Linked DNA regions of Homo sapiens. The protein of the gene in region 1 interacts with the protein of each later gene in a pairwise test. Each region holds a gene or a part of one and is shown in the gene's direction. Other genes may lie near its edges.

Region 1 (5,737 bases):
CTTTGAATTAAGACAGCCGTAATATAGTGAAAAATGCACACATTTTGTAGTTAAAACTGGCTTGTATTGCCATTGGCAAGTTGCCTGGCTCTTTGGGCCCCAGTCTTCTGTATTTTTTTTAAAAAATGGGGGATGATAGGCCGGGCGCGGTGGCTCACGCCTGTAATCCCAGCACTTTGGGAGGCCAAGGCGGGCAGATCACGAGGTCAGGAGATCGAGACCACGGTGAAACCCCGTCTCTACTAAAAATACAAAAAATTAGCCGGGCGCGGTGGCGGACGCCTGTCGTCCCAGCTACTCGGGAGGCTGAGGCAGGAGAATGGCGTGAACCCGGGAGGCAGAGCTTGCAGTGAGCCGAGATCGCGCCACTGCACTCCAGCCTGGGCGACAGAGCGAGACTCCGTCTCAAAAAAAAAAAAAGGGGGGGGGATGATAATGGTGGTTATCAAGGCGAAAGTAAGATAAATCGTGTACAGTGGCAAGCATAGGGCCAATTATTAGCAGGCTTTTAAAAATTTTTTTAATTTTTTTATTTTTTGAGACAGGGTCTACTGTCGTCCAGGCTGGAGTGCAGTATCCTGATCATGGCTCACTGCAGCCTTGACCTCCCGGACTCAAGCGATCCTCCCACCTCAGCCTCCCTAGTAACTAAGTCTACAGAGTTATTTTTATAATATTACGGATATTAACACGTCCTGGAGAACCTGCAAACACTTATTGGAGGGAGAACCATACAGCCTTCAATCATAGCCCAGGACTTTTAATGTGATACATCACTATGGAGCAAGAATTCAGGAAGATAGTTCTAGAAAAAGGGAGGGGGAGGAGGAAGAAGGGGTAGTGGGGAAGGCGGGAACTCTCCCAGGTCCACAGCACAAACCCGGGGAATACGCGCGCTTTAGGAGCCTGCAGAACGGGCTTCTGCAAAGCGCGCTGCAATAAGAAGCGCAGGAACCTAGTACAGCAGACGTTTCAAGTGCCGCGCATCAAAAGACGGGGCCCCCGTAGTGTAAGCATTCTTGGATGCACTATGCACTTAGCAGATTTCTATACTTGCACTCTGACATAAGTTCATTACTAAAAAGCTTAAGTCCTTGGAGCTTTCTCAAAAAGCACGTTGGGTTTCTTGCAGCGTGCACCTGAGCAGCGGACTGCTCTTCAAATTCAGCCCCAAATTCCCGCTCCCGGAATGCACGGTGGGTTCTGAATTCAAAAATCCAGAGCAAGCAGCCTTCTAGCCAATCATTGCACCTTATCACTATCCTGACTTTGGCGCGAACTGTACAGAACTAGATAGTCCTATCCATTTGTCACTAATTTCTAGCAGGGGAGAGTCGTGCTCAGAACCCAATTGCATGGTAGACTAACAAGTTCACTTTCGCATGTTTGGGCTGCTGAACTTTCCGCGCTTTCCTCAACGCCATCTCTCGGTCTTTTCCGTGGGGGAAGCAAAGGGCATCGCTCCACCCAAGTGCTGCGGGGTAAAGACGGTTGGGCGGAGGAACACTGCCAAAATACCTCTCCACGGGCTGGTGCGAGGTCTCACCCCGCCCCCTCGCCCCCTCGCCCCCTCGCCCCCTCGTCTCCTCGCCCCCAAATCGGCTTTCACAACCCAGCCGCTTTTTCCAATCTGGGTCTCTGCTCAAGTTGGGAGTAGTTAGTTAAGCAGCAATTTGGGGCCACTGTTCCCCGCAAAGCATGTTCACTACCTGCACCATGCTTGCGCACGCTCGCCCTATTTTTCGTACGCCCTGGACACGAATGCGTCCCCCGGGGGTCGCACTCACAACTAGATGTACTGTGAATGCTAATAGGGGGCGTTTAACCGACGCGTGTGCATACGCTTTGAACCTGCGGAAGGCACCGTACCGCTATATAGGGCGCGCAAGTGCCAGACGGCGCCAGAAAGAGGTCCCGGCGCCAGAAAAGCGCTCGCCCGAGCCATTGGTCCCAGAGCCAGTTCCAACCCCGGGATCGCCGCGGAACCACGCACAGAGTCTGCAGAAGTGCACAGCTTTATCGACAGCGCTTGAAGCATGGAGTCTCTTCGCGGGTACACCCACAGTGATATTGGCTACCGCAGCCTGGCAGTCGGCGAGGACATCGAGGAAGTGAATGGTTAGTGCTTGGACAGGGACGGGAGCTTTCGCGAACTCCAAAAGAGGAATTTTTCCCTGGGAGAGGCAAGCGGAGGAGACGCTGCGCGGCTGTCGCAGTTGCTCTTCCATAGCGGGTCCCCTGCCTCCTCCAGCCCACGCGCCGTGGGCTCCAACGCCCTGGTGTCTCTTTTGCTTTCCTCCCTTCCCAGATGAGAAACTTACCGTGACCTCGCTGATGGCAAGGGGAGGAGAGGACGAGGAGAATACACGGTCCAAACCTGAGTACGGAACAGAAGCGGAAAACAACGTTGGCACGGAAGGGTCCGTCCCCTCGGACGACCAAGACCGTGAGGGTGGCGGCGGCCACGAGCCGGAGCAACAGCAGGAGGAGCCGCCCCTGACCAAGCCGGAGCAACAGCAGGAGGAGCCGCCCCTGCTCGAGCTGAAGCAAGAGCAGGAGGAGCCGCCCCAGACGACCGTGGAGGGGCCACAGCCGGCGGAGGGGCCACAAACCGCTGAGGGACCACAGCCCCCAGAGAGGAAACGCCGCCGCCGCACCGCGTTCACGCAGTTTCAGCTGCAGGAGCTAGAGAACTTTTTCGATGAATCTCAATATCCCGACGTTGTGGCGCGGTAAGTGGCTTGCCCCGGAGGCGCCCAGTTCATCCCGGGACCCTTTCACCGGAGCTAAAAGCCACGTAGGGGGCTCACGGGCGCTGCCTCCGCCCTTGGTTTTTGGGGGACGTGGTGGGCGGGGCGCGGAGGATGTAAAAGACTGGGGCGGGACTAGGGTAAAGCGAGTGAGGCAGGGTGGGATCCCGCCTTTATTTAAAATTTTGGCAATTTGCTCACCATGGGTTGTTTTTGCATTAATTTTGATACGTTTTAATATTGCATTAAAATATTATTTGTCTTGATTATCGAGTTTTTTAGCGCCATTTACATTGTGCGCGCGTGGCGAGCGCCTCACTCTTTTCGCCCTAGTAACCGCCCTGCCACGTGGAGCGCACTTTTACAACCAGGGGGCGGACTTTTGAGCTTTCGGTAGCCAGCGACCCCTTTCCTTCGCTAGCCTCATCGGAGCCCTCCTCATACCGACCCGTAGTGTACGAAGGGGCAGGCCTTTTCTGGCCAGGCTGGAATGGGGGGCGGGGGGCACCTGGACAGGTCAGAGTAGGGTTAAGGGGACCTTTCTGGCTTCGTTGTACTTAGCCTTCGCCCGGCAAAGAGCAAAAAAGAATTTCCCTAGGGCGCGCTTGGCCGATGTGGTTTGGAGTTCCCTCCCTGAGAGTTCACCTCTCCTTTTTACGATAAACAGAAATACTGTGGTTCAATACAGCGCTTTAAAGGTGTTTTGGCATTTAATTTTTTTTTGTTTTTTTTTTCACGGACGGACTTCCCAAGGAAAGATTTCCAGGGTTGTTCTCTGCTGTTTCACAAACAGAAGAATTGAGTCATATTCAGCTAACAAACCATCGGGCGCTTTTACATATGTTTCCTTTTTCTATCTTATTTAACAGCGAAGTTGTTAATGGGAAAAACCTCCCTAAAGCGAGTCCCAACCGTATTACAGAAAACTGCACTGGGAGGTGGGGGAGAGAAATAATGTACATTCATATATATATATATATATGTTTTTTTTTTGAGACTCACTCTGTCGCCCAGGCTGGAGAGCGGTGGCGCGATCTCTTCTCGCTGCAGCCTCCACCTCCCGGGTTCAAACGATTTTCCTGCCTCAGCCTCCCGAGTAGCTGGGATTACAGGCATGTGCCACCATGCCCGGCTAATTTTTGTATTTTTAGTAGAGACAGGGTTTCACCATGCTGGCCAGGCTTGTCTCCAACTCCTGACCTCAGCAACCTCTTCGGCCTCCCAAAGTGCTGAGCCGAGCCACGTTCATATTATTGCATTTTATCCACAACTCCAAATACTGAATATTTGTAATTTTCTCCCCTAAGAGAGAGACTTGCAGCACGCCTGAATTTGACTGAAGACAGAGTGCAGGTCAGTAAATCTTGAAAAAGCAATTTGGCAGGACAGCCATTCTAAAGCATGCTTTAGGTTTTGTCCTGGACATTCTCAAGCTGGTGTTTTCTGTTGTCTTTTCCATGGTTGACAAATAAGTTTTGAACAGTAGGGGCTTTAGTGGTAGAAAATAGGATGTGTAAACTTCAGATTATGGAAATTGCTCATAAACAGAGGAAATATGATTTCCTAAAGGAAAAAAAGATGTGTTTTCATCTTCCTTCTATATCTGTATCTGTCTTTCTCTCCATATAGTGTATGCACATGTATATGTACATATACACATTTACGTACACATATATGCACATGTATACACATACATACATACATATATCCCAATAAATAAGATTAACCTTCTTCTAACACTGGTATCCTCTAGGGAGAATGTTAGTTTTCCCTAAAGGATTACTTCTATATGGAGTCATGTTCGGGGCTCAGTCTCACCTCGGAAGTATTCAAATTAATGCACAGAATAGCTCAGTTTTATAAGAAGGTTCACTGTACTAAATTATTTAAAATATTTAAAACCTAGCACAAGCACTTAGCTAAATGAGTGAATTTATATTTAGGCATTGGAGTGAAGGAGTAATTCACACACAGAACACAGTACTAAAGTAGGGAGTGGCAGCCCTAAATTTTAATTTTTTGGGAAGATTTTGATGTCAGCCTGAAAACATTGCTAACATATTTCAATTAAGTGGTAATGGGGAAAACATTTGTAAGCTTTGGAAAACTGTCTTTAAAAAATGAAACAAAAAAAGAAAGAAGAATTTGAATAAAATTCCCTTACCTAAGAAGGGTGGAAAGATTAGAGAAGAATTGTATACAGTCAAACACATGCATTGCAGATGTCACACAAATTCAACTTTATGAAACTACCAAATGCATAAGAGAATGTTCGCTTTTTTGTAAACACCTTAGAAAAAACATCTTAGATGTTTTATTCTTTTTGGTGATATTATTTTGAAAAGGTGGGTTTTCTGGAATTTGATTGATTAGGGGGTTCTCTCAGTTCAGGCAAGATTCTTACCTGTGTTGATTTAAAATACCTTTTCATTTACTCAGGCAGTTATGACTAATTTTGCAGGTCATGGGATCAAAAGGTGACTGTTTGAAATTACAGAAGACCATAGCTGCATCAAGGAAGTATTTGCAAAAAAATAAATAAATAAAAGTTAGAATGGGCTTATTAGCTTTGCCTCAGGGTGTGTGTGTGAGTGTAGTGATGGAACTGCACTGCACGCCTGTGGGTGTGATGTCTGGAAAAGCAGCCCAACAAAGTAGACCACTGAATGCTGGAGTCCTGATGCCAGGGGCCCATAGCCTCAGGTTGGGATGACGTATCCTCTGCCTTCTCAGGGAAGCAAGGTAAACTCAGAGGAAAAGAAGAAAGGTTTGCTGAGCTGCTTTTTTCCCTCCCAGGGTTTGCATAGGCCTCTCAATGGATTTATGAAGGAAGGAAGAAAGAGCCAGAAAATACAAAGAAGGAAAAATGACAGTGTTCTCATCTATTTCCAAATTCTATAGCATGAATATCCCCCAAAGACACTTTTAATAGACACTCCCCTCCTTTTCTTTGCAAATATAGTAGACTTATTTTATGAAATCAGTAT
Region 2 (4,949 bases), on another chromosome or scaffold:
GCTGGTGGAGGTGTCCCCTGATGTGGCGACGGTGCAGCTGGGTACCCTGGCTGCTGCTGCTGCTGCCACCAGGGTCAGGAAATGGAAGGCCAGGCTTCTGGGCCTCTGGCACCTTCCAGGCACATCCTTACCCTCCCACCAGTGCTGTGCTGTGCTCTGAAGGGCTCAGCCTCACTGCTGTGTGAAGGTGCAGCCCAGGGAGTGGCAGGAAGAGGGCGTGCACACACTGTCTCCCCTCAGAGGATGTTGGGGGCTGGGGAGCCACAGACAGGTGGGACAAGCCAAGGACTCCGATCCCGTGGGTGGGGAAGTGGGTGGTCTCAGTGTCTGTTGAGGGACTATTCATCATGTACTGGATATCAGTCTCCAAATACTATGCTACAGGGGCCAGTCGTTCAGTTAATCCAATAGTGGATGGCTGAAAAACGAAACATTTGTTCCATAAACATTTTTTGTCCATTTTTTATTGAGATACAACTTACATAGCATCAGATTCACAGAATTCACCTTTTAACACGTAAAATTCAGTGGCATTTAGTGCATTCACAGTGTGGTGTGGCTGCCTCCACTGTAACCCCAGAACATTTCATCCCAGGAGCCCATCCCGTGCTGGTGTCCCTTCTCCCCAGCAGCAGGAGGAGGGTGACCACGTGTGTGGGGTCCCAAGGAGGCCGTGTTCTGGTTGTTTGCCGACTTCGGCAGCTTCTGACACAGGCCTCTTCATTCTCCTTTATCTTCATTTGAGTTAACAGCACACAGGTAAGAGTCAGAGACATTTCTAGGTCTTTGTAGGTGTGCACGTGTGACATGTCTTATCAATGCAGACCCACCATGTGTGCAGGGGTGGCCTGGGCCCTGCTGGTTGGGTGTCCAGCTCCTTGCTTTTCCCTCTTTCTGTTTTCCCCCTGCGTCCTTCCAGCTGCAGCTCCCATGAGCTCTAGAGGTCACAGCTGCGTTCAGCTGATGGGGAGGAGGGCAAACCCCTCCCCTAAGGGCCCTTCTCCAAATCCCACTGAAACCCACTGGGCAAAGCCAGTCTCTGCCATAGCCAGCTGTGAGGAGGGCCGGGAACCGTGGACTTCACCCGTGTCCGTGTGCCCACCAGAGACTGACTCTGTCACTGAGGGCAGAGGGAAGACGCTGGGTCCAGGCCGGGCTCTGCTGTTGGGTGGGGTCCCCTCCCAGGGCGTGGTGCGCGTAGCTCCCTGGAGAGCCCCTGGGCCACCTGGGGCAGGAGGTGCTTCCTAAGCCCCCAGAGCTCCCAAAAGGGGCCTGATGGGCAGAGCAAGGCCTGCTCTCGGACAACCCCCGAGTCCACTACCGTCCCTCGGGTCAGGGCCAGCCTGGAGTGCCAGGAGGCCATGGGCATCGGAGGGTTTGCGCCCAGTTAGTTGGGCAACATTGAGCCCATGGGCCTGGAATAAGTGGTGACCTGCCCCGTCCCTTCTAGGAGGACATAGCAAAGCTGCTGCGCTACGAGTCCTCGGCGCTGCCCTCCGGGCAGCTAACCAGCCTCTCAGAATACGCCAGCCGCATGCGGGCCGGCACCCGCAACATCTACTACCTGTGCGCCCCCAACCGTCACCTGGCAGAGCACTCACCCTACTATGAGGCCATGAAGAAGAAAGACACAGAGGTGGGTGAGCGGTGGGTGGGGCGGGCTCCGGGGGCTGCAACCTGGGGAGGGTCTTGACCTTCTCAGCTCTGTGCTGGGTGAACCTGCCCAAGACTCCGGGCAGGGCTGCACAGTGGGTCAGGGTCACGGGCACAGAGGCCGGACCGACTGTGACGGCTGTTTCCCACTTGGAGGTCACATGTGGTTTTTTTTGTTTGTTTTTTGTTTTTTTGAGATGGAGTCTTGCTCTCTCGCCCAGGCTAGAGTGCAGTGGTGCGATCTCGGCTCACTGCAACTTCCGCCTCCTGGGTTCAGGTCATTCTCCTGCCTCAGCCTCCTGAGTAGCTGGGACTACAGGTGCACACCACCACACCCAGCAAATTTTTGTATTTTTAATAGAGACGGCATTTCACCATGTTGGTCTCGAACTCCTGACCTCATGATCTGCCTGCTTTGGCCTCCCAAAGTGCTGGGATTACAGGCGTGAGCCACTGCACTCAGCCACATGTGGATTTCTTTATGCGTGGAGTGCTTCTGCCTTGAAGGCAGTCAGAGCCTTCCTTAGACCCAGGTGTCGTAGTAACTGTCATGCAGGCCTAGGAACCCCAACTGCCCCGGTGTTCCCCAGTGTGGCCCGCTTGGCTCCCCCAGCCCTCCTGCCGCCCTCATCCTTTCTTCTGTGGTGGCTGGAGGCCCCCGGGGTCTGATGGAGCTGCTCTTGGCCACCTGCAGGTTCTCTTCTGCTTTGAGCAGTTTGATGAGCTCACCCTGCTGCACCTTCGTGAGTTTGACAAGAAGAAGCTGATCTCTGTGGAGACGGACATAGTCGTGGATCACTACAAGGAGGAGAAGTTTGAGGACAGGTCCCCAGGTCGGCATCCCCTGCTCTCTAGGCGTGGGGCTGGTTTCCACTCCCCGCACGCCTCTCCTGCCCCGCAGCGAGGGCTTCCTTTGGGTTTTCGTCAGTTGACCTGGGCTCAGCCACCCCCGAGAAGAGCCTTGTGGGAGCACCCTGGTGACTGGAGGAAGGTGCCTCCTGGTTTAGATATCAGGGGTCTGTCCAGTGCTCCTGCCACGGTGGCTTCTGGAGCTGGCCCAGCTTCTTGAGAGGCTGTGTATTTTTTTAAAGCCCTAACCAAGTTGTATGGGCCTCAGGCAACCTGAAGCATCCTTTGAGGTTTTACTTTTAGATGAAAAGCATCTTGCTAGCTTGTGTCTCCATCCTGGTGGGAGAGGAGGTGGGAGCTGGAAGCATGCTGCGTGGCCCCCATGGAAGCCGGGGAGTTGGGATGCAGGCCTGAGCTCCCTGTCGCCTGCTCTTCCGCAGCCGCCGAGTGCCTATCAGAGAAGGAGACGGAGGAGCTCATGGCCTGGATGAGAAATGTGCTGGGGTCGCGTGTCACCAACGTGAAGGTGAGGCTTTCCCGGGGATGGACCACCACTTGGCCGCAGTGTCCCTAACAGGCTGGCCAGCTGGTGGCTCCCAGTACCTGGCCCGTTGGGTGTCCTTCCAGCAGCAGCAGAAGCCCTTGGTGTCAGGTGGAGACCCTGTGGGTCCCTGCTCGGCACGTGTTGCTCGGGAGTGCCGCTGAGGCAGGAAGGCCGTGTCTTTCTCCCAGCCCTGCTCCAGAGCAGGTGTGAACTGAGAACTGAAAAACCAGCATCCTGAGTGGGAGCTGCAATGGCTGAGGACGTGGGGGTTCCAAACAAGGGACATGCTACCCCAGCCCTCAGGAGCTCACATGCTCACTTGGGTGCTTAGTCGGGGGTTTTGGGTGGGCTTCAGAGAGCTAAGACTCCCCCCACCAACCTGTCTAGCTCAGAGTGAGAAATGAGCGTCCCATGCATGGTCACTTGGAGGAAGGGGCCTCATGCAGGGTGGGCTGGCATGGAGCAGAGGACGATGGATTCGGGCAGCTCCTGGAGGCAGCAGCGGGGCACCAGGGTGGTGGAGCCCCTCGGGCACAGTATCTTTGCGTGGGGCATCAGCTCAGGGCCCACAAGTTAGTGGGTAATGGGGAGGGAGCAGCGCTGGTCCAGGGGAGTCCTTGAGACCCCGCCTGCTACCTCGTGGTCTGGGTGACCTTCACCCCTGGTAAGATCCTGCCAGCCCTCTCACATTGGGAACCTCTATCACCCTCAACCCCGGGCTTTGCTCACAGGTGACCCTCCGACTGGACACCCACCCTGCCATGGTCACCGTGCTGGAGATGGGGGCTGCCCGCCACTTCCTGCGCATGCAGCAGCTGGCCAAGACCCAGGAGGAGCGCGCACAGCTCCTGCAGCCCACGCTGGAGATCAACCCCAGGTGAGGCCACGCTCCTGGCTCTTCCAGCCTGTGGGATTCCCCAGAATCCTGTGTGTGGTGTTCTTTTGTTGTGGAATGTGACACAGAAGAAAAGTGCGTGAGGCCTGTGGACATGTGGGTAACTATAAGGAGCTGTATGCAGTTTAGGCTGCACCCATGTGAAATGGAACCTGGCCAGCCCCTTACCATCCCCAGGTGTCACCTGGGAGGTTAGCCACATCCCAGCCTGTGACCATGTCCTCGTTTTGCTTTATGGCTTTGCCACCTGTGCGTGTCCTGGACATGCTCAGTTTTGCCTGTTTTGAGCTTTGTACGTGGATCTTGGTGTTTGCTGAAGTCTCACGTTGCTCACTTGGCATGAGGGTTGCCCATGCAGAGGGGCTGCCACAAGTTCATTTTCATAGCCGAATAATGTCCGCTGCAGAAACCCACCTCGGCACAGCAGACTGCTCCGTTCTGCTCTGCTGGGCCTCCGGTGGTTCTTGGTCAGAAGTTGTGGAGAGCCAGGCTGCTCTGAGTATTCTTGTCCACGTGTCTGGGGCTTGTGTGGGTTTCTCTGTGGCCCCGGTGGTGGGAGCTGCTTCCAGGGTGCACCGAGAACCCCCCAGCCCTGACAGTGGCTGAGCCGTAAGATTTCCCTCGTTTCTTCCTGTTGTTCTTTATATGCCCTTTATCTGTTGTAAATGTCTTTTCACCTGCCTTTAGGTATCTTTTGAGTTTCTTTCTTTTTACAGTATCACTTCTTTGCACCCATGAATGTGATCTATTTAGGTCTTTAACATCCTTTGGTACCTTACATTCTCTGTAGGGTTCTGGTACCATTTTTAAAGAATTATTCTTTGATGTGTCTTATGGGGTATTTTAAAATTTCATTTTCTAACTTGTATATGAACTAACTTGTATATGAAGTTTCTTTTTTGGGGGAAATTTTGAATGTAGCAATTTTTTAAAAAATGAAGTTACATAAACATGTTACCAAAAATAGAAAACAGCAAAAAGGAAATCAAAATCCATAGACTTACCACC

The links. The genes of interacting proteins can lie anywhere in the genome.
Region 2: the proteins of ESX1 (region 1) and TRAP1 interact in a two-hybrid assay, tested with the Homo sapiens proteins (one large-scale study listed by BioGRID and IntAct).

The regions. Positions count from the first base shown.
Region 1 is NC_000023.11:104,251,149-104,256,885, reverse strand, and holds the start of ESX1 (homeobox protein ESX1), read left to right. Parts: upstream 1-1,952; 5' UTR 1,953-2,036; coding exon 2,037-2,118; intron 2,119-2,308; coding exon 2,309-2,732; intron 2,733-4,057; coding exon 4,058-4,103; intron 4,104-5,737. UniProt on the Homo sapiens protein: May coordinately regulate cell cycle progression and transcription during spermatogenesis. Inhibits degradation of polyubiquitinated cyclin A and cyclin B1 and thereby arrests the cell cycle at early M phase. ESXR1-N acts as a transcriptional repressor.
Region 2 is NC_000016.10:3,660,961-3,665,909, reverse strand, and holds part of TRAP1 (heat shock protein 75 kDa, mitochondrial isoform 1 precursor), read left to right. Parts: intron 1-448; exon of another isoform or gene 449-1,450; coding exon 1,451-1,636; exon of another isoform or gene 1,637-2,347; coding exon 2,348-2,486; exon of another isoform or gene 2,487-2,942; coding exon 2,943-3,028; exon of another isoform or gene 3,029-3,264; intron 3,265-3,777; coding exon 3,778-3,923; intron 3,924-4,949.